Homo sapiens: one gene and its partner. The protein of the gene in region 1 interacts with the protein of each later gene in a biochemical or structural test. Each region holds a gene or a part of one and is shown in the gene's direction. Other genes may lie near its edges.

What was found.
Region 2: the proteins of PAM (region 1) and RASSF9 form a complex in vitro, tested with the Homo sapiens proteins (one study listed by BioGRID).

What each region holds. Positions count from the first base shown.
Region 1 is NC_000005.10:102,748,728-102,760,213, forward strand, and holds the start of PAM (peptidyl-glycine alpha-amidating monooxygenase isoform e preproprotein), read left to right. Parts: upstream 1-6,577; 5' UTR 6,578-6,621; intron 6,622-11,486. UniProt on the Homo sapiens protein: Bifunctional enzyme that catalyzes amidation of the C-terminus of proteins. Alpha-amidation is present at the C-terminus of many endocrine hormones and neuropeptides and is required for their activity.
Region 2 is NC_000012.12:85,825,217-85,835,986, reverse strand, and holds part of RASSF9 (ras association domain-containing protein 9), read left to right. Parts: intron 1-10,770. UniProt on the Homo sapiens protein: May play a role in regulating vesicuar trafficking in cells.

The sequences.
Region 1 (11,486 bases):
TGACCTTGTAATCTCAACTGTCCAGTCAAATAACATTAGCCTATTCAATTTCTCCAGTATATCCACTTTCTATCAACAGATTTTCCTCTTGTATCTTCCTACTTCACCTCAATCCACCTTATCTCATCATACTAAACTATGTATGGACAAAGTTTTTATGGTTTATATTATCTTATTTATATAAACTATCATGTATTCTCTTTGTGTTAGGCTATTTTCATTCCACAAGCATACTGAGTGTATTAACTACTTGTGTGAAACTGCCAGCAGCATTTTAACACTCCTTTTTCAGAATCAAATATTTGGTTCTTCATTAGTGCTGAATCTACATAAAATTGATGACCCTGGTTGTCCTTGTAATTATTTTATTTCTAAACCCTGGACTTTATAGAAAGAATTAATTATAGCATGTATCTGTTTTTTAACTGCGAAATTGGATAATGGCTTAATAGCTCAAGGGGATTACTTGTGGGAATTTAAGACCTGTAAGATTCAATTTCCCCCATGTCTATTTTCCTGCAGTGATCTATGGCTTTGATTCCAGTCACAGATCCACCAAAATGAGGGTAGGTCATGGATATGTTGCTGTGTCTTTTTTTGAAAAGTCATGGATTTTCCTTGTGAATCAGCCTTGCTAGCACAGCCAGAAACCTAAGGTAGGTAGAGACAACATAACTTGGCATGGAGAACTTACCTTGTGAAACCAAATTAACTTTTTTAATTAAAAAAAAAGTTTAACTGCATCTAATAGGTAGGTAGTTCATATTTAATAGTATTTTAACAAAGAATAGTTTTACTTGCTAAGTGTTTATACCCTACAGATGGTTGCCCTGACTATACATAAAAACCACCTGGGGAATTAAATAAACACCTATCCTCGGGCCCCACCCCCAGAGAGTTTTGTTTATTGGGTCTGAAGCCAGTCCGAGGCAGGGCTGAGGTGGCAGGATTGTTAAAGCTTCCCAGGTGATTCTAATATGTAGACAAGATTGAGAATCATTATGTCTAGCCAGTAGTACTGAAACGTATTTTTCTCCTCTGAATAACAGCATTGTGTGAAGTTAGAGGGGCCAATTTCTGGGGAATGTGGGATATATGAATCATAATTAGGCCCTCTAAGTGTCAACCACAGTCTGGGCAGGGAACACCTGTGGAGCAAGGAATTAAAAATGAATGATACCCTTTGTATTGTAACGATAATACATTCTACTCTCCGGGAAGCTATTAAAATATTCCCCTTAAGATTTTTTTTTTCAAATCTATTTTAAAGTGTCACAAGAGAAAGTAATATGGGATATTCAAGAAGGCTCTGTATACTTAACCTGGCAGAGCTTTCTGGAAAATATTTTGTTGTTTTATTTATGTGTTCATCATGCAGTGATAGAGGGGAGAATGTGAGTTGGCCTGAGAAAAGAGAGAAAGAGATTTCACATTTGCATTACATCAAGGAGGTTCAACTTGGTCTAACTACCTCTTATTCCACTTTTCAAATCTTGAGATCTGTTTGATGCATAAATTTCATAAATGTTCACCTCATTTAAATGATAATTTATGTCCTTAGAATATCATTTCTAGCTTTGTTCTTCTGCACACCCCTGGAGCTGATCAGAGTGTGTTGATCCCTTTGTTTTCAAAGGAAACTTTATGTTCACACTCTCGCTACAGGGGTTAGCAGAGTAAGACGAGAAAATAGTCCCATAGTGTTTCTGCCAGCTAATGAGGAAAATTTTTCCTCCTATATATATCATGATAGGTAATTGAATTAGTACTCCAGTAGGAAAGGGTTTGCTATTTCATACTTCTATAGTCTTTTCTTAACACCATGAAATTAAAGACATGCCAGCATGGAGCTGCCTATTCCTGATCGATTTCAAATAAGCAATGTAGTATATTATTGCTTTTATGTGCTTTTACAGCACATGCTGTGCAAGATAATTGACTCCATGACAGATGTCTATATTTCAGAGGAAAATTTATTTGTTAAAGAACAAACATGTATTACTTTAACATGGGGCTATTCATTATATTGCCCACAAGGTGCTTTTTGATGACTTCTAAATTGAAATTAATATTTTCTCTTGTCGTTCTGAATATGCATAAGCAAATTTGACTGTTTGATATAACCATTTTGAAGCTTATTCTGCTACTTGAATGTAACCTTCTGTACTCTTAGATCATGTTTGAAGTGCTGGGAAATGAGAAAGTGTGCATTTGTTTTTTTTTTAATTTTCAAAGAAGCCTGTAGGCCTGAACAGTTGCCAAGTTGTTCAGAGTAAGTTCTGTCCATCAGACCCATCTTTACATAAAATGACTATGAGAAAAGTCTTAAAGGGTACAGGAAATATTTTCCATGAATCCTCCTTTACTCTCTCACTTCTGCTTGAAATGTCACTCTTTTTCAAGGCAAACACTAGTAGGAAGTAGCATCTGAAGTCCCTAACACTTTTGTGTGAGGCAAACTGACTTGGAGAACTGGCAGTATTAGTTGGACAAGGCTGCTATGAAATAAAACTGAAAAAAGAGAGACGTTTACAAAGGAATGTCCATCTCCATCTACTTTGCAACACTGACGGAGACCAATTCTCCTGTCTGTAAATAAACCCTCCCATTCTTTTAGCTGTCAGAGTTTCTCCAGGAAGAAACTAGACCCTTTATCCTCATCAGCTGACTGGTCACCTTTTGCAGTAAGATCATACCATTAATATAAAATTAAAATAATCAATACCAAGGGATTACCATATTCAGAAAGGATATAAGTTTAATAAGGTTCTTTCAAGGACTATTTCTCTTTTGATGAGAAGAAAAAGAGAAATTTCTACCCTCTTGAACTTTCAATGGCCTAGCCTTTTGAGCATTAGAGGAAACAAGCGGGGGGCGGAGAAAGAGATTTTTTAAATTAAATTGGATATAGTATTTTTGAAAGTAAAACTGGGACACTAAGGACTAGTTTTGTAATGACAGAGTGCAGAGACAACCTCAGGTGGGGTGGAGCCCTGAGGAGAGTGAAAAGGGAGGCTTCTCCTCACCTAAGTGGAGGTGGTTGGCTCCACTGCCCAAGCTGGCCTGCACACAGAATGGAATGCCTTGAGGCTGTAAGTCTGAGGCTCTGAGGTGAGGTGCACTACTGGGCGTCTGACAGCACAGCTAAAATTGGCTGTGCCAACCAGTGAGAGGTGACAGCATGCCGGCAGCCCTCGCTTGCTCTGGGCACCTCCGTGGCCTTGGCGCCCACTCTGGCCGCGCTTGAGGAGCCCTTCAGCCCGCCGCTGCACTGTGGGAGCCCCTTCCTGCAATGGCGGAGGTCGGAGCCGGCTCCCTCAGCTTGCAGGGAGGTGTGGAGGGAGAGGCGAGGGCGGGAACCAGGGCTGAGCAGGGCGCTTGCAGGCCAGCTAGAGTTCCGGGTGGGCGTGGGCTTGGCGGGCCCACACTCGGAGTGGCCGGCCGGCCTCGCCCGCCAGGGCAGTGAGGGGCTTAGCACCCGGGCCAGCAGCTGCGGAGGGTGCGCCTGGTCCCCCAGCAGTGCTGGCCCACTGGCACTGCACTCGATTTCTCGCTGGGCCTTAGCTACCTCCCTGCGGGGCAGGGCTCGGGACCTGCAGCCCGCCATGCCTGAGCCTCCCCCAAGGCTGTGGGCTCCTGCGCTACCGAACCTCCCCAAGCCTCCTAGACTAGCGCTGCCCCCTGCTCCATCAGCACTCTGTGTCTAGCTCAGGGTTTGTGGATGCACCAATCAGCACTCTGTATCTAGCTAATCTGGTGGGGACCTGGAGAATCTTTATGTCTAGCTAAGGGATTGTGAATACACCAATCAGCACTCTGTGTCTAGCTCAAGGTTTGTAAATGCATCAATCAGCACCCTGTGTCTAGCTCAAGGTTTGTAAATCCACCAATCAGTACTCTGTATCTAGCTGATCTGGTGGGGACTTGGAGAACCTTTATGTCTAGCTAAGAGATTGTGAATACACTAATCAGCACTCTGTATCTAGCTAATCTAGTGGGACTTGGAGAACTTTTGTGTCTAACTCAGGGATTGTAAACGCACCAATCAGCACCCTGTCAAAACGGACCAATCAGCTCTCTGTAAAACAGACCAATCAGCTCTCTGTAAAATGGACCAATCAGCAGGATGTGCGTGGGGCCAGATAAGGGACTAAAAGCAGGCTGCCCCAGTAGCAACTCGCTGGGGTCCCTTTCTACACTGGAGAAGCTTTGCTCTTTTGCTCTTTGCAATAAATCTTGCTGCTGCTCACTTTTTGGGTCCACACTGCCTTTATGAGCTGTAACACTCACCACGAAGGTCTGCAGCTTCACTCCTGAGCCAGTGAGACCACGAACCCACCAGAAGGAAGAAACTCCAAACACATCCAAACATCAGAAGGAACAAACTCCAGACATGCTGCCTTTAAGAACTGTAACACTCACAGAGAGGGTCCGCGGCTTCATTCTTGAAGTCAGTGAGACCAAGAACTCACCAATTCCAGACACACCAGGACCTTGAGGGTGTGAGAGGTTACCGTCAGGTTACATTTAGAAGTGTTGTCCCAACTACTCTCCCACATTTAAGGCAAAAATATAGTCACCACTGAACAAGAAAATCATCTTGGCACAAAAATGTACTGAATTGAAGAAAGAAAACAAAGAGAAACAAAACACCATAGCCTAGAACTCCTGCCCCTCCACATTTTCTTCTCTCTCTCACACCACAAACTTTCTCTCTGTGACACACACACACACACACACACAGAGGAGAGACGTATTTGAGGGAGGGTCTCAAGTGCTTGCTTTCCTTAACAACCCAGACCAGGAGGAAGAGATAAAGTGACTTAGGAGATGCCTAAAGATGAAGAACAGCCCGGGATCCGTAAACAGACTCAGCTCGGTGTCTTCTCGCACCTTCTCAGAATCAAGTTTCCAAAATGAGGGTCATCCGCCTGCCTTGGAATTTGGGTTGGGAAGTGGATGGAGTTCCTGGACACATGCTCTAGGCCCTGACCAGTCTGGCCACTGCTCACTAGGAATTCTGTTGGGAGGGTGTACAACAGATTTTCCAACTGGTCTACAGCGAGCATCGGTAGTTTCCCTATGGAGAAAATGATTTTCTTTCTGGGAATCCCCCTATAGCCTGAAGGCTTTGCCTCATTTCCCATAGCTCCTCTCCGGTGTACCCCTTCGGTTCGCACTTTCCTACCTTCTTCCCAGTCCACTGGCTTCTCCTTCTTTATCTTCCTCAGTGTCCCTTCTCACAACCTCCCTGCTACCACACCAGATTCTGAAGGGGAGGAGTTGTCTGGAAAGACCAGAGCTGGGTGCTGGGGATCTGGAGCAGCTCGGGACCCGCGCTGCAGGGAGCTGGGATGGGAGAGGTGAGGGAGAGGAGGATGGGACTCTGGGAGAAAGAGAGGGGGCTGGGCTGGCGCTGGGGATGGAAGAGGCGAGGTGAACGCACTCAAGCGGTTACCTGCAGACAGGGAGAGACAGTGGCAAATACCTGCCTTCAATTAAACGCATATCAATTTGTGTGTGGGGTCAGTACTGCACATCATCAAGCCTCTTGGGTATAAAACCTTCCTACTGGAACTCTCCAGCCCCGCCCCCACCACCCCACGCGCGGCTCCCTGCTTTCTCTTGCTTTGGGGTGAGGCTGGGGATGTGGGTGGCTCCAGAGTTCCCTGCCCGCAGTTTAGGGGCGAAGTGATCGGTGTGTGCGCGCTGGGCACTCTGCGGGTTAAAAAGGTTTAGCAGAAAGGGATGCAGATGGAGGCGGGAAGCCAGGCTAAGAAAGGGATACCGACCTCCCTCCTCGGGTCGGAGGTGTGAACTGGGAAGCACTGCGCAGACCTGAGCGAGGTGGCCTGAATCCAGGGGCCGGGCAAGGGGGTGGTGTGAATAGAAATAGCACATTTCCCAGGCTTTCAGCCCCGGTACTCTGCCATCCTTCCAGTTCCATGCACTCAGCCAGGTCTCCAGGCTGGAGCAAGGGCTGGGGGTCAATGGGTCCTTCCTTCTCTCGGGAAACGTTCTTCTGGCGCGAAGCTGGGCGGAGGGAGAGTCGGACATTTTCCTCTGCTTCTCTCAGGGCAGCTGGCGTGGCCACCTCGCAAGGCTGCTTCTAGGGACACGAGACTCGGGAGGGTCAGAGACTTTCAGGCCGGGCCTTCACTCCCTTCCCCGGGGCACTTGGGCAAGAGTTCCAGCTCTTGGCTACCTCTGGCCCGCGCGTGAGTTCAGACACCCAGCACACGCGACCCCCGCAGGGAAACCCCGGGAAGCTGCGCGCAATCGCTGGGGACTCGCCAGGGCTCCACTTCCCAAGCTCCGCGCCCCCTGCGCCCAAAGAGGCAGGGCGGAGCAGAGGCCGCCGGCGTGGAGGAGGCGAGCGCGGGGCTGGCCCGGGAGCCGCCCCCGGGGAGGGACTGAGACCTGCCCCAGGAGTCGAGGGCGAGCGGCGGACCCGGCTGGGCCCGGCGCACGCCGAGGAGAGGGAGCCCCCGCCACCGCCGCTGCCTCCGCGTGCTCAGCCTGTCCCCGCCCAGGGAGCCGGAGCCTCCAACTAACTCCGCCCGCCGCTCCGCCGCCCGCAGGCTCCGGCTTCCGTCCCGGACAGAGCCCGTGGTCGCGCAGGTTGGTGTTGTTGCCGCTGCTGCCGCCACTGCGAGGCGGTCAGGGCAAGGGTGAGGGTGGGGGCGCGGAAGGGGGCCTGGGCTCGGGATCCTGCTGCCACCAATTCCTGGTGCCCCAGGAGGTTGTTGCTTTTTCTCCCGGGCTGCCCGGGTCGGGGGTGGGGGGATGGGGCGGGGATCCAGCGATGCGGCCAGGGAGGATTTTGGGGACTGAGCTATTCTCGCATTTCCCAAACCTCTCTCACGACCCTTCATCACCATTATTAAGTCCCTGGCCAGTTTGTGAGGGGTCGTCCTCCCCTCCGGTCCTTCTCACCTCCGCACTTCTCCTTGTGCCCTCTCCCTAGGGGGTACAATTTGTTCATTCGCCTTTTCTGCCCCCAACTTGGAGAACTCTCCGTGACGCCTAGAAAGCCTCCTCGGTTCTCCGCCCGCCCTTCAGTCTAGTTTGGGGAAGTAGAGGCCGCCGCGGAGTAGCAACCTGGGGTGTGGAGTGGGGGCGAGTGCCGGGAAGCAGTGGAAATTCCTTCCCCTCTTTCTTTCCCGTCCTTGCCCAGCTTTGCTCTCTTCCTGCCGTTTTGCCAGCCTCCGAATGTAATACGCGGGCGAAGGGCGATCTCCAAGGCAGAATGGGAAGTATCCACCACTTGGGATACTAGTTAAGTCTAGGTTCAGTCACCTTCCCAGCTCTGTGGCCTTGGGACCCGCCCCATCGGAACCTGTATGTTGTCATCTGCAAAATATGCGTCAGCTCTGCCTGCCGCTGAGGGTAGTTGTGGGGCTCCCTTGGGATGACTTAGGGTATTACGTGATTTTGAGCACGGTCTCTTGTCTCGTGCAGCTGCCTGATGGCAGGTCCTGTGTTCTGATCGTCTGAGTTCAGGTCCTTTGGCTGAGATGTGATTATCTCTCTGGGTGATTTGGTCAGTAGCTTTGCGGGGCTAAAAGGCATGTGTTCCTGGAGCTGGTCATTGGGGTTCAGAGTTGAAATCGTGTCGTCCCCACCAATCCCTGTGTACAAAGCTATGGACCTTACATCCTGTGCCTTTGTGGTCATAGAAATTCAAGTAGAAGGAAGATCTTATTGGACTTTGTTTGCTTCAGATGTTTTACATTCTTTACAATCGCTTTTCTCTTCTAGGTGCAAACTTAAATTTACTGCTAATTCTAATAATCCAGGAAGGATACTTTCATTTTAGTAAAATCAGACATTTAGCTCAAATAACATGTGACATATTGTTTGTAAATTTTCAGTTTATAATCACAGGCACAAAAAAGCATAGTTCATGCCATTCTAGTTACTTTATAAAGCAAGTAAATGGCCTAAAAAATCAGCTTTACAGGAAGTCAGGGCTGCAGTGAACTGTGTTTATACCACTGCACTCCAGCCTCGGTGACAGAGCAAGACCCTGTCTCAAAAATAAATAATCAGCTTTAGAATTGATATTAAATGGTAAGCCCTGTCGTTCCTGCATTCCTGACTTAATAGGCATTTTCATTCCGCGATGCACTCTGCTATATGCTTTAAAGATATAAAGATATAGAGTATGTTCCTTGTCCTGAAGGGCCTTCCAAGGTAACTTAAAGACTATGTAGTTTTATTTCATATTTTTATATGAACAGTCTTCTAATGACTATACATGGCAAGTAGAATGAGGTCAAGAATGCATTATCAAAGGCCCTTTAAGATCATCATTTGGCCGGCTGCGGTGGCTCACGCCTGTAATCCCAGCACTTTGGGAGGCCGAGGCGGGCAAATCACAAGGTCAGAAGTTCCGTACCAGCCTGGCCGACATGGTGAAATCCCATCTCTACTAAAAATACAAAAAATTACTTGGGCATAGTGGCAGGCACCTGTAATCCCAGCTACTTGGGAGACTGAGGCAGGAGAATCGCTTGAACCTGGGAGGTGGAGGTTTCAGTGAGCTGAGATCACTCCACACACTCCAGCCCTGGTGACAGAGTGAGACTCTCTCAAAAAAAGATAAAACTAAATAAATAAATAGATAAAAAATCATTTGGTGAGTTTGCATAATTGGAAGAAATAACAAGTTTGTTAAGACATTGCTTTCTAAAATAAAATGCCATGTGCTCCTACTTCATCAAGGTGCACTTGGAAATAAAATGAATTCTGTGTTTTTAGAATGAAAGCTTAGGAAAACATTCTACACATGTATGATGTGCTAATCAAATGTTAAAAGCTATAGAAATTTTAATTCTAACTTCCTTCAACTGTATGTTGTGGTTCCCACATACAGTTTTTTTCTCAACTCCTTGAGGAAGGAAATTATAATGCCTAGAAAAAATATACAGAGATTTAATGTAAGATTTTTAATAAGCTGGACCTTAAGGCCTGGTGGGTCCTGAAGTGACTCTGGAAATTTGACTTTAAAAGTTACGAGACTTGGTGAGACTGAGTGTGGTGGCTCATGCCTGTAATCCCAACACTTTGAGAGGCTGAGGCGGGAGTATTGCTTGAGTTCAGGAGTTTGAAACCAGCAACATAGTGAGACCTTCTCTCTACAAAAAATATTAAAAGAAAAAAAAAGCCAGGTGTGGTGGTGCACGCCGGTAGTCCCAGCTACTCAAGAGGCTGAGGAGGGAGGATCTCTTGAAACTGGGAGGTTGAGGCTATAGTGAGCTGTGATCATGCCACCACACTCCAACTTGGGCCACAGAGAGAGGCCCTGTCTCAAAAAAAAAAAAAAAAAAGACTTAGAATTTTGTTTTTTTTTTTTTTTTTTTTTTTTTTTTTTTTTTTCTTGGGGCAAAGAATGAGCAAGAATTCCACCTGGAAAAGATTGACCAGGGATCTTGACTTTCTGTCTAGGTTGTATTTTGTGTGACTCAGTGACATCTCTGATTCTTTTCCTCCTCCTAGGAAGAATTTATCTATCTGCTATGTGCAGAATTTATTAGGCTTTACATACTGGGCTTTGAGGCTTTGATTGGACTCTCACATTAAGGCATGGCAGGCTGAGGGGCAGCCTGAGGGACATAATGTTAACTTTACACTTGGCTTTATTGTTCCATACCTTTGTTTTTCTATTTGTGAAATGAGATTAAAGATCCTTCTTACTGCCCTGGAAGCCGTGTCATCTGGTATAATAGCCATAAATGCTTCTTGTGTGTATAAGAACTTTCTTTACCATTTGAATGCGAAAGCTAATTATTAAAACCACATACAAATAGCTCAAAAGATGGGCTGTGAATAAAGCTGCTGTTGGTGTCATGTGCTCTCAGGTATCCTGGCAGAAATTTCAGTCATCATGTATCCCTACAATTTACTGTGTTGTGGAGAATAAGGCCTTCATTTTATCTGGGGTTGAATGTTTACCTCTCCAAAATGGGAATAATGAAATACTAACCTGAAAGGACTGTTGTCAGCATTAAATGAGCTAATCCATGTGTGGTTCTTAGCACATTGCCAGTATACAGCTATTGCTCTATGACTCAAGTAGTTATTTTAGTTTCTCCAGGGTAGGGGGAGGGGGGAAGGAATGGAATTTCAGTGGTCCACATTTTAAAAATGAATACATATATAAAAATATAAATACACTCTTCCCCAATATTTTGAAATAGCCATTCCTCAGCTAACTTTTTTCATTCATTTATGCAACAAGTGTTTATTCAGCCCACACTAAACGTTTGGCTTTTTCCTAGGCACTGACATACAATGGTATACAAGACAGTTATAGTCACTTTCTTATGACTGAAAGGTCTAGAGAGGGATGCAGATCTGTAAACAGAGAATTATAAATTTATAAAGAAAATTTTTAAAAAATTATAATGCCATATGATTCATGCCATGATAAGGGTAGTGAAGAGAACCTCAGAAGATAGGATAGCAGGGTCCTGGGTAGGTGAATGTCACACAGTGCATCATCTCATCCTAATTGGGTTGGTGGTGGTGAAGGAAAACTTCCTAGCAGCATGAATACATGAAGACCTGAAGCATGAGTGGTAGTTAGCAGCTGAAGAGGTGGGAAGATTGAAAGAGACCAAAGGGAGCATGATGCCTTAGAATGGAAGTCAGGCAGAAAATGTTAAACAATACATAGGTAAGAGCAGGAGGGAGAGGCGTGGCAATCTGGAGAATCCAAGCTGTCTAAAGGGAAAAGTAGATACTCATTTCAGCCAAGTATTGTCAGGTTGGGATGCAGGCCAAGTGTTGCCAGATGCCTTGATTTCTAAAGAGGAGCTTAAAATTCATATTTTATAAATATGAAATCTCCCAAATATGAACTAACCCAAATGTTTTAAAAACTATTCTGTGGGCCAAACCAGACAAATCTGTAGTTGGAATTCAACCTAGGGCCACCACTTTATGACCTCTACATGTAAGAAACTGAGAGGAGTTTAATGTGGCTAAAGGCATAAACCTTAAACGGACAAGCAAGGGAAGCACTGGCTTTGTGGAACTTGCTAAGGAGGGGTGGCCTAATTCTAAGGACAGTGGGTGACATTGAAGACTGAAACAAGATGAGATTTGTGTTACAAGATGCAGTCTAGCTACTGTATAGAGAATGAGTGGGAGGAGGCAGTGGTGGAAGAAAGATAACCATTTGGAAGCTTACCGTGGTCATAGGAAGAAATTAAGTGTGGCTAAAAGCAAGGTATTCAAGCAGGTGGGAGATGAGTGGATTTCAGAGATATGTATGATACCCCTATGTTGGGATTCAATTCTCCATTAGTCACTCAGACTTTTGCATGTCTTGTGAGCAAAGGCATTTACTGCTTTCATCCCAGACTCTCTTAAAGACATTTGTATGGTAGATAGTTTTGGAAGATAGAGGTATTCTTTCCCTCTGAAGCAAAGGGCAGGTAGGTTTTACTGTCCAGTTTAAAAGATTCAAGTACCCTAAG
Region 2 (10,770 bases), on another chromosome or scaffold:
AATACCTAGATAGTAAGGATATTCTCCCAGTATTGATGATGGGAGTGACCAGCTCAAGGATCGCAGAGAATAAAGAGTGATTATATTTGACTCCTTTCTCCCCTTTTGACCAGTCCTGTTTCCACAACTAGCAACATAAACAGTTTCTTTTTTTGTTGCCCTGGGCATTTGAGGGTAGTACAATAAAAAGTGTCATTTTGTTTCAACAGAACTTTAGAATATTGTAGAAATAATTAAAACTTTGATAAAGATGTAACTAGTATTTATAGCCACTAAGTAGGATGAAAAATAAAACTGCTGATACAATTCAGAAACAATGCTTTGGCTCCCCTGAGAGTGAGGCATTCCTGAAACCTGGAATGTTCCCAAAGTGGAAACACTCTGGAGAGAAACTTTGTTTGAATTGATTCTTTAAAAAATCTTTGAGAATTTTAGGTAGTTTTAAGCACTAAAGAAGGATTCAAGCAGCTATCCTCTCTAATCCTTATTATTACTGTTTTACTTTGATTTGATTTGATATTTCAAGCTTGAAATGCCCATAGTATAAATAAGTTACTCAAAACACACATACACACACGTATTTTTCTAGGGACAGTATGTCTGTCTTAGTCTTATTAAATATTTTATTTACACATCAAATGTTACGTTTTCATGCCAAAAACTTGAGAATAAATTTAGACATGGGCTATATTTTTTTAAAAATATATTTATTTTGGCATAGGGGATTGTCCACCACTTTTCTCTCAATCATGCCTGTTTGTACTTGTCATAATTTGCTCAGTGCAGATTCAAAAGGATACAATTACATGGTAGGAAATGATATAATTATTTTAAAGTGTCTACATGACAATATAGAGTAATACAACTTTAAAGTAAATCTCCATACTTTATTTTGCGCACACATGTCTACTTTGAAAATCCTGTTTTTAACTCATTCCAAATGTATTCATGATTTAGGTGACAAAATTTCCTTTAGAAAGTAAATGGCCTTAATAAATACTGTAAAAGTTTCTAAGTAAGCTTTATTTTCTAATAATTTGACAATATTTCACAAATATGCTATTTATGGTAATTAAAGATAATGAAACTATATTAAAATAAAGTGGTTTGAGTATTTAAAATTTGTGTTTTGATGGTGACAATGCATTTTAAAATATTCTAGAATATTCCAGAAAAGCCTCCCCCAAGCCAAAAATAAAAATACTCTGTTTTTTAAATGATATTTTTGTAGTGGTATTTTTGTAGTATTATTTTGGCATTTGTTTAAATGTCATCAAATGTATAAAAATACTCTGGAAAACTTTATGGTTTCATAAATCAAGTTGTGTTTCTGGCATACTATCCCTGTAGTCAGGGCTTTCTGTTTGTTTGTTTGAGGTTTTTTTGTTTTGCTTTAGCAATTTGAGATTTCTGTCATTGGTATGCCAAATACAGGGCAATAAAACTTTGCATGCGCCCCTGAGTTTCCCTCAGGGAAGTGCATTCTTCAATTTCATTACATCAGTTCTGCCACTCTACTATCTACTCTACCTATAAAACTAGCTTTCTTTCGAGGAGGTGAGTATGCAAACATTTTTTAAAAGTTTTCTATGCAAAATTATGAAAAGGTGAAAATAAAAATAAAAAAGAGAGTTTAATAGTGTTGAATTTCAAGTTTCTCAGAAAATGGAATGGCTCCTGAAGATGATGCTTTGTTATAAACGCAAGTGTTTTGGAAAAGGTGGCAATAGTAAGGATATGGGTAAGCTTCTCTAATGAAAGTATTTCCCTTTACAGATTTGTATTTTTCAATCCTTAAGAAAGATTTAAACCACAGCAGTGGTCTAGGACACAAAAATATGGGTATTTCAAGTTAAGCAGTGAAAAGATCACAGAGTGTATTGAAATAGAATTAATATTTGTTTTGGTATTTACTAATGCTATATACAGGGTCTTTTGTTTTGTTTTTTCACCTTAGCAGAGGTGAGACCACAGGTGAAAATTATTTGCAAGATTAAGTTTACTCATTTTGTTTACAGTTTCCATAATGATTTGAATAACCACATTCTAAAGCACAGAAACAAAATATCTTTTCTTAAATGATGAGTGATTTATCCTTTCTTGGAAAATGTGATTTATGATAAGACAGTTATCTGATAAGAGTCACTATATTCTTCAAATACAGACATATAAAATTTATTGTACAATGTAAAGTAAGAATTTGGATAACAAATATATTTATATGCCTTATGATATATAACAGACAACAATAACAAAAAACTACTTGAGCATAATTGCATCTTTATCAGCAGGAAAATATATGAACTGTTAGAAGGAACATTGGGGATTAAAGATCATAAAATTTTGAGAAAGTCTGCTTACAGAATTTTTCTGCATGCTATTCTCTGCCTCTCTTTTCATTTTTGGTCACTCTTGGAGTGATATTTAATTACCCAAAATTGAACCTCATGAGATAGTACTATAAATGTGCTTATAATAAATGGATAGTTGAGAGTTTTAGAGACAGACAGGATGCAATTAAAACTTCAAAGTATGAGGCAATACAAAATTTTAGAAAATACAAACCATAAAGCTTGGAGAAGGTGGGGTCATATCTGTCTAGACACCATTGTGTTTTCATGTCCAGGACAGTGCCTGCCATGTGGTAGACCTACAATACAATTGTTTATTCAGTTTTGTAAACTGAATTATAATTTTTACTCAAACCATAAATATACTAATTATTTTATTCTCTATTCATCATGTGACATCAGCTGGTATTATATAAAAGTGAATACTTTTTAAAGGGTTAGTTGATATTTAATATAATTCAAAACCTAAAGAGATGGACACATAATTATATGGATTTTGAAACCAACCTAATCTTATCCTACTACATAATTTTTTTTCTAAATTTAAAGATTATTTAGTTCAACAATTTGGGAAATAGTATTCAGGAAATTTGAGAATAATAGATGCCTAAATATAAAGCCTAAAAAGTTTGTATGCCCAAATATAATCAGGCTTTTCATTTCAAACTTTCATAGAAAGACATGGAACCAACCTAAATTCTTTCTGTTTACAATGAGAGTTAATCTTTAGAATTTTTCTAATTGTAGTAATGTTTAATTGGAAGACTTCGGTTTTAAGAGAATCTGTTGCTTTTAGGAGATGAATTATTTATTTTGATTCCAGAAAAACAGAATATTCTATGACTGAATTCCAAAGATTCTTGATGCATATCTTCTTCATCAGACTTTTTGTTCAACATGAAGAATACAAATGTTTGAGAGTCTAGATATTTTTTCAGTAAGCTGTTCAAGTTCTGAAAGTGTTTTCTAAAAGTCGCTAGGGAACCAGTGTTCCTCACATAAAAGCTAAAGTAGTAAATAATGAAACACCAGTCCATTTGAGATTCATGTGGACATTCAACAATTGGATTTAGATTATGAACCTATTTACCATTCACATAGATTCCATTTGTGAATGTGATTGTCTTTATATTAGATTAGGTTTTCAAGGTAAGGATTGTTTTAATGTTAATGTGTCTAAATAGCAATCAGAAATTTTGTAAAAGTTCAGATAACTAGAATGTTATTATAAACCATTTTTTGGAACACTTGGTTGTAAGGTATGATTTCTTAGTGTTTTAATTAATAAGATTTGGAGACAGAGAATTGGTTGGTACTTTCACCAAACCTTGCTAGAAGCATAACATTACCATAATGAAATAGTGTCCAATGTATTTTTCAAAATAGGAAATTAGAATAGTTTGCATAGGTGATTTGTAAGATAAAAAATAATGAATATAAAAATATTGAATCCAGTTTAAAGGGCACTTAAAATTATTTTGAAGTGCTATTTAGTTTTCTCTCATTTTCCCTTAAGTCATCTCAAGGGTTCCCTTCGGCTTTCACAAAACGTACTGATATATGAATATCCACCACAGGCTGTAGCAGACATGCTTGTAATATCAACCTAAAATTAAAAGACTCCAAAAAATTTGCTTGTCCTGAATTTATTAGCATAAAATATTATAGCTTTATTGTTTTATAATTGATACATAAAATTTGCATTCCAGGTTGCTTTTGCATCAATTAGAACATATTTAGACAACAGTTCTTAAGGCCAAGTACATTATATTGTCACTAGAAGTAAATCATTCAATGATTGCTTCATCGGAAGAAAGAATTAAATTTTGTGGTTAGGGTAAAAGTTGCTGACAAGAAGGATGTCTTCTCTCTGTTATTAGAAGTATGGTAATTTGTGAATTCTGCAGAGTGGGAAATTATTATGCACTATTTTGTTTATCCTTCCAATCAAGATTTAAAATGTATCCAAAATTGTATGGAGAAGTGCCAGATATTTGAGTATGTAAATCTTCAAAATTCTCAGGAGTTCCTGAAAGTGATTTCCCCTGATTATACCTGGTAACTTAAGTAGTTATTAGTTGGCAGTGGATAGCTCATTAGGAACAATGACTGGAATGCTTTATCCCTGACAAAAATATCCTGAGAGCTGTGCCAAGGGTAAAATTGAGCTCTAGGTTAAACCTGAATTGTTTTTCAAGAAAATCTAAGCCAGCTTTGTACTACATAAAATGTATTATCTACAGTGTCAGTGCCTGACACATGTCAAGGCGAGAAGTACTTAAATTAATTTTTTGGAGAAAAGTTTTAAAAAGTTTGAAGCTGTCTAACAATTTAATTTAGATAATGTGTTCGTTGGCTGTATAACTCAGGAAGTTTTGATGTTATGTTATTGGCATGTAGTTCCAGGAGATCTGATGATAACTCTAAATAATTCACAAATATGTGGCTCTATTCTTTTGATAGTAGTTCTGAAAATGAAATAAGGTTGAAGTAAGGGTATGTGTTTACCTCTTGCAGGTGTATATGAATACCAGTCCTTGACAAGGAATCTCTTTGCCTCTTACATATCAGCTTTCTAAAATGAAACCTCATGATATCTGCACCATGCATATGTCAGAGGAAAAAGTTCAGCTTACTTCTGCATTCTAATGACTTTAATGTATGGTTGCTTAATTAATTTCTTGACATCCAAACACAACATTGGCAAAACACAACATTGATTTCTTAAGTGCTAATTCTTTACTATTTTTAATATATTGTGATTCCATTCTTGTAGAGTCTGTTGTAGTACTACACCTTCTAGAGAAAGTTTGTGTATTTGTTGGATAAAATTGAAAGTGATTACTAATATAAATGATCATACAAGTACAAAGTATTTATGCAAGTGGAGTAGAGCCTTGGGAAGATGTTTAGCACTGGCAGTAATAAACAAGATATTTCAAGTATAAGAATGAGCAATGCAAATTAAATCTGCTGACAAACAAGGAAAATTATACTCAGAGGTTTATATCTTCAGACTAGAATGCACCCTGCTTTTATAAATGAAGTGATTTAAACATTCTGTTAAAAAAATCATTGAGTATAGGTCCAATCAGAGCAGGGACCTTGCTTGTATTTTTCCTTCCTAGATAGCCAGAGAGTAAGTGCTCAAAAAATATTTGTTGATTGAATAAAGAAATTCAACATATACTCTTAAAATACAGCTGATCAGTAGTGCATTTATGTTAAGTGGATACATGGGTAACTTAAAGAATGAATCCATAAATGCAAGGTTGACCTCTCATCTTCCTTGCTCCTAGGCCCAGCTCCTGGCTTTCAAGTGGTAAAGGGCCATGTCTAATAAATAGATGACATACAACTTTACCAGACTTTTGGTAGAAAAACAAATCAAGAATCATGGTCATTTGTTCTTCTCTATGGATGCTCTTACCTCCCCTCATCCCCCTAGAACACAGCCAGGTATGCATATGAGTGAAGTTGGGTGGGTGAGACTGAATGGATTCCACAGACCTCACTGTTGAATGTGGAGCATATCTCCTACTCATTTGAGATAGTTTAGCAACACAGTTATAGGAATGTTCTGAGTGGCTACCTTTTAATTTTGTTTCTTTAGGATGGGTAAACTGTGTTTAGTACTGTACCAGACATGCAAAGACAAAACCCCATTCCTAAGAGATTAAACTCCTAATTGAGAAAACATTATTATAGTAAAATAGTTCATGCAAGAACTTTTTTAAAATCACTCTTCCATGGAAAACTATCTTTGACAGGGTAGACAAAATCATAATTTTTGCAATACAATTAAGAAAATTAGAGTACAATCTCTTGGAGTTGATGAAGGCTATTCCTCTGTAGAGTAGGTGCTCAATAAATGTTGATTAACTCTATGTAGAAATATTTAAGAGAGGAGTAAATGGAGGTAAAGGAAAATAAAATGAGCATCATCATAATTAGCTAGCATTTATTAAACTCCCACAGGCAACAGGCTTGAACAAGAGAAGGGAATGCAATAAGATTTAGAAAAATATGTAGGAGGGGGCTGAATCATACAGGGCTAAGACTGACTCACATATGATAATCAAAAGAAAAGAATCCAAGAAACGGGCAGTAATATGGTCAGTTTGGCAATCCATAATCTTAGTTGAGTTGGTGGAAAACAATATTTTACAATTACAATGGAAGTATTTAAAATAATTTTGTGTATTTATATAACATTGTCGGTTGAAAGTCAATGGCAGTTGACTTCTGTTTATTCTAATAATCACATTAAATTGGTCCGTGTATCAGATCTTGAAATTGAGTAACTCTACCATTTTATGAGTCTTTTAAATTTTATTTCCATTGATGCAGATAGTGGTCCAACTTCAGCAAATTTTCAGGCTCATTAATTATGGCGTATGACTGCTAGAAGCTTTGTGTGAGAGGCCTATTGATATGCCCTCTGGTGCATGTTTATTGTTCTCAACCAATGGTTGGGACATTTTGTAGCCACCTCATATACCTTTAGTTACTCTTAATGCTCCTTATTTACTCTGATCCTTTTCAGTCCCACTGGAATCCCTGAAATTATGGTTAAGTGTGGTAATTTAGCATTCAGTAGAAGAGCGTTTGTTTTGGGAAAACACAGTCTTCCACAGTAAAGCCTAAAAGGATATCTATTTCAGCTCTGTACATAAGATCTTGTGTTTTTCTGGAAGATAAGAGAGATTCTATTGATAAACCATGGACCTTTTTATGGGGTAGACATGTAATAACTACCTTCTCATATGGAGAAGAATTATACATGATTAGTAAAAACACTTAAAAGGCCATAGTAGAATTTTGAGGTTTCATCTTTGTTAATAGTGCAGGAAACTACGCACATTACAGAGGTAGACCACAAAGTAGTCAACTTTGTTCCTTGACTGCCTGTTCTTCCAGCAGTGAAAGTTGAGGAATTTCTTCCTAGAACTATAATTAATAGCCATAAGACATAGACTAAGTTACTGTTTTAACAATGTTAAGCAATTTTTGTGGTTCTACTTTTAATTAGGAGAACTTGCTGTAATCACAATTTAGAAGATTAAGTAAAATGGTTGACTGTGGAATGTATTGTTTTACAGAATATGCTCATAATATTTTATTTTTCATTTTTGTGGGTACATAGTAAGTGTATATATATATTTATGTGATACATGAGATATTTTGATACAAGCATACAATGCATAATAATCACATCAGGGTAAATGAGGTATCTACCACCTCAAATATTTATCCTTGTGTTACAATCTGATTACACTCTTTTAGTTATTTTAATATGTACAATTAAATTATTACTGCCTACAACCACACTGTTGTGCTATTAGATACTAGAAAACCTATTTTACCATCTCAGAAAAAAATATACATGATGTTCTAAGTAGATCACAAATCTCACTCTGTCAGACTTGTGATCTACTTAAATACACACACACATACACACATATATATTTATATCGAGTTATATTGTGAAGTATTAATGATAAATCAGGTATGGATTAGGTTTTTAAGGAGCTTGCTGATTAACAAGACACACAAGCCATATGTAAACAATTGAAATACAAAACAAGCATTTTAAAGTGTCATAATATAATCCATATGTTGAATAATAAATATTTATTTACCTTGTAGTATGTGCCATATATTTTTCTAGATGCTAAGGATAAAGTAATGAGAAAGATAATCAAGGTTTTTCCTCTGATCGAATGTATAATGCAGTGGTAGATGGACAGACAATGCAAAAACAATATGTGAATTAGACATTTGAGATAGTAATTACTGTTATCAGGAAAAACTAGATTCATGTAGTGGAGAGTGGTCTGGGAAGAGTTGGCTTGTTAGTTAAGACTGTAATGAACCAAAGAAATCAGGCATGTCAGGCTTGTGGTAGAAGACTGTTTTAGCCAGGTTGAACAGAAGGTATAAAGTAACTGAGACAGAATATGGTTTGGAGCTGTGGAAAACATGAAGGAAAACCAGTTAGTAAGGGGCTTACGAGTAGGGAATGTAGTTGAGGACCTAGATGGAGTATGATTATTTAGATATTTGTGGATTATAAGGGATGTTGATTGTACTTTAAATGCAAGGGAAATCCATTGAAGGGTGTTAACCAGGGGAATTATAGAATCTTATTTACATTTTTCAAAAGGTCAACTTGCCTAGGATGTAGAGAGGTAATTGTACTAGGACGAGGAGTGAAAGCAGGGACTCTAGTTGCGGTGACATTACAGTAGTATAGGCAAAATATGATGACTAGTGTAATGATAGTAGAGAAGGAATGTAGGTGACAAAATTGATACAGTTTAGAAAGAGAACTTAAATTTGTACTGAGTGAGTGAAGATGAAAAATGAGGGATGATTCTGAGGGTTTTAACAGGGATGATTCTGAAGATATTTGTCAAACAGAAGATGTTGGGAAGAATGTGTGGAAAATTAGTGATTCTTCTCTAGCCTTGCTAAGTTTCAGATGCCAGTTAAATACATAAAGTAGAGGTATTCAGTAAGATATTGGGCCTGAAGCTCAAGACTGAGATAGAGTGGTATGTTAGGTGACAAGGAGAAGCAACCTCTGTGGGTTTTACAAAACAGCGTCTATACTAGAATCTAAATGAGAGGGAAGATTAGAATATAAAAAGTTGGGAAAAAGAATATTGTAGGTAAAGGAGAAAGAGGAAGAAATGTAAAATATTTGGCATAATAGTATCAGCGAGTTTGTGAATGGCCAAACAGATTATTTTATTTTTTAAATTTAATTTAATTTTTCTTTATATTGTGGTGGGAACCATTGAAGGGCTATGAGCAAGAAAATGATATAATCATTATGTCACATAAATATTAAACTTGAAGAAATATATTTAAAAATATTGGAAGGGATGGGCCAGGCGCGGTGGCTCATGCCTGTAATCCCAGCACTTTGGGAGGCCGAGGCAGGCAGATCACGAGGTCAGGAGATCAAGACCTGGCTAACACAGTGAAACCCCGACTCTACTAAAAATACAAAAAATTAGCCAGGCACGGTGGCAGGTGCCTGTAATCCCAGCTACTCGGGAGGCTAAGGCAGGATAATGGCGTGAACCCGGGAGGCGGAGCTTGCAGTGAACCGAAATCGTGCCACTGCACTCTAGCCTGGGCGACAGAGCGAGATTCTGCCTCAAAAAAAAAAAAAAAAAATATTGGAAGGAATGGAGAAAGAATACGAGTGGGCCAGGTACGAGGGAGTTAAAGGACTTTCTTAAATAGAAAGAGAAGAATGATTCAAGAGTCACCATGGAGGCGGAATTTATAGGAATTCAAAATTCAGTGCATGGGGCCAATATCAGGATGGAAAAAAGAACCATTCGTGACTAGATTTTGGTTCTGAGTAACTGGAGATACATGTGTGTCATCATAAAGAACAGAAAATATGGCAGAGATAGGCTTGGTGAGGGAAGAACATCAGGGTGAAGAGTGAAGAAAATTAAGGTGTGATTTGAATGTTTCTAAATATTCCACCAGTAAACACCTGGTGTTTGGACACATTGCACCTGACATGGGACTGTGAAAGCAGCCTTTCATCCAACCCACTCTCATCCCTCCTGACAACCATATGGGGCTGATTAATACAGAATAGTACAGTGCACCTGGAGTGGGGCTTTCAAGGCAAAACACAAACTGGTTTCCCAGTCAGGGCTGTCAGGCTGACTAATCTTATATTAATCACAGTCAGGCCACATAAGGCAGTCACCCTTTTAATGATCCTTTAATCATTACCTTTGGTTGAAATTGCTTTCAAACATAGCCATTATTTCCACTAGACTGTAAGGGTGTGTGTGTGTGTGTGTGTGTGTGTGTGTGTAAAGATCACATTATTTTTACCTTTTGATCTCCTAGAGAATGGTACAGAGAAAACTTGTGTAGATATTGAAGTTCAATAAACATTTTATTATTTAAATAAATACAGTGCAGATTTCTGGGGCAGCCAAATTATCTAGGACAAGAGTTGTCAAACTTTTTGTGTAAAAAACATAATAAATATTTTATATTTTCCCAGTCATAATGTCTCTATCTCAACTACTCTGTCCTTGTAGTATGAAAACAGCTATAGATAATACATAATGAAATTGATGTGGCTGTGTTTCAATAAAACTTTTATTTACAAAAACAGGTGGTGGGGCAGTTATAACCACGAGGTCCTTAGTTTTCAGACACTTGATCTAGATTATTGACTGAGAAATTCCCTTTATATATCTCCCTAAAACTCCCCCTTCTCATCTCTACCCCACTCCCAAGTTTAATACCTACTGTATTAGGCATTTAGACTTCAAAAGTGAGACTTAGCCCAGGACTTGACTGGCAAACTAGCAAAAAAGGATGCATTATCCAAAGTACAAAGTGCTGCTACTAAGTGTACATTAGATTTTGT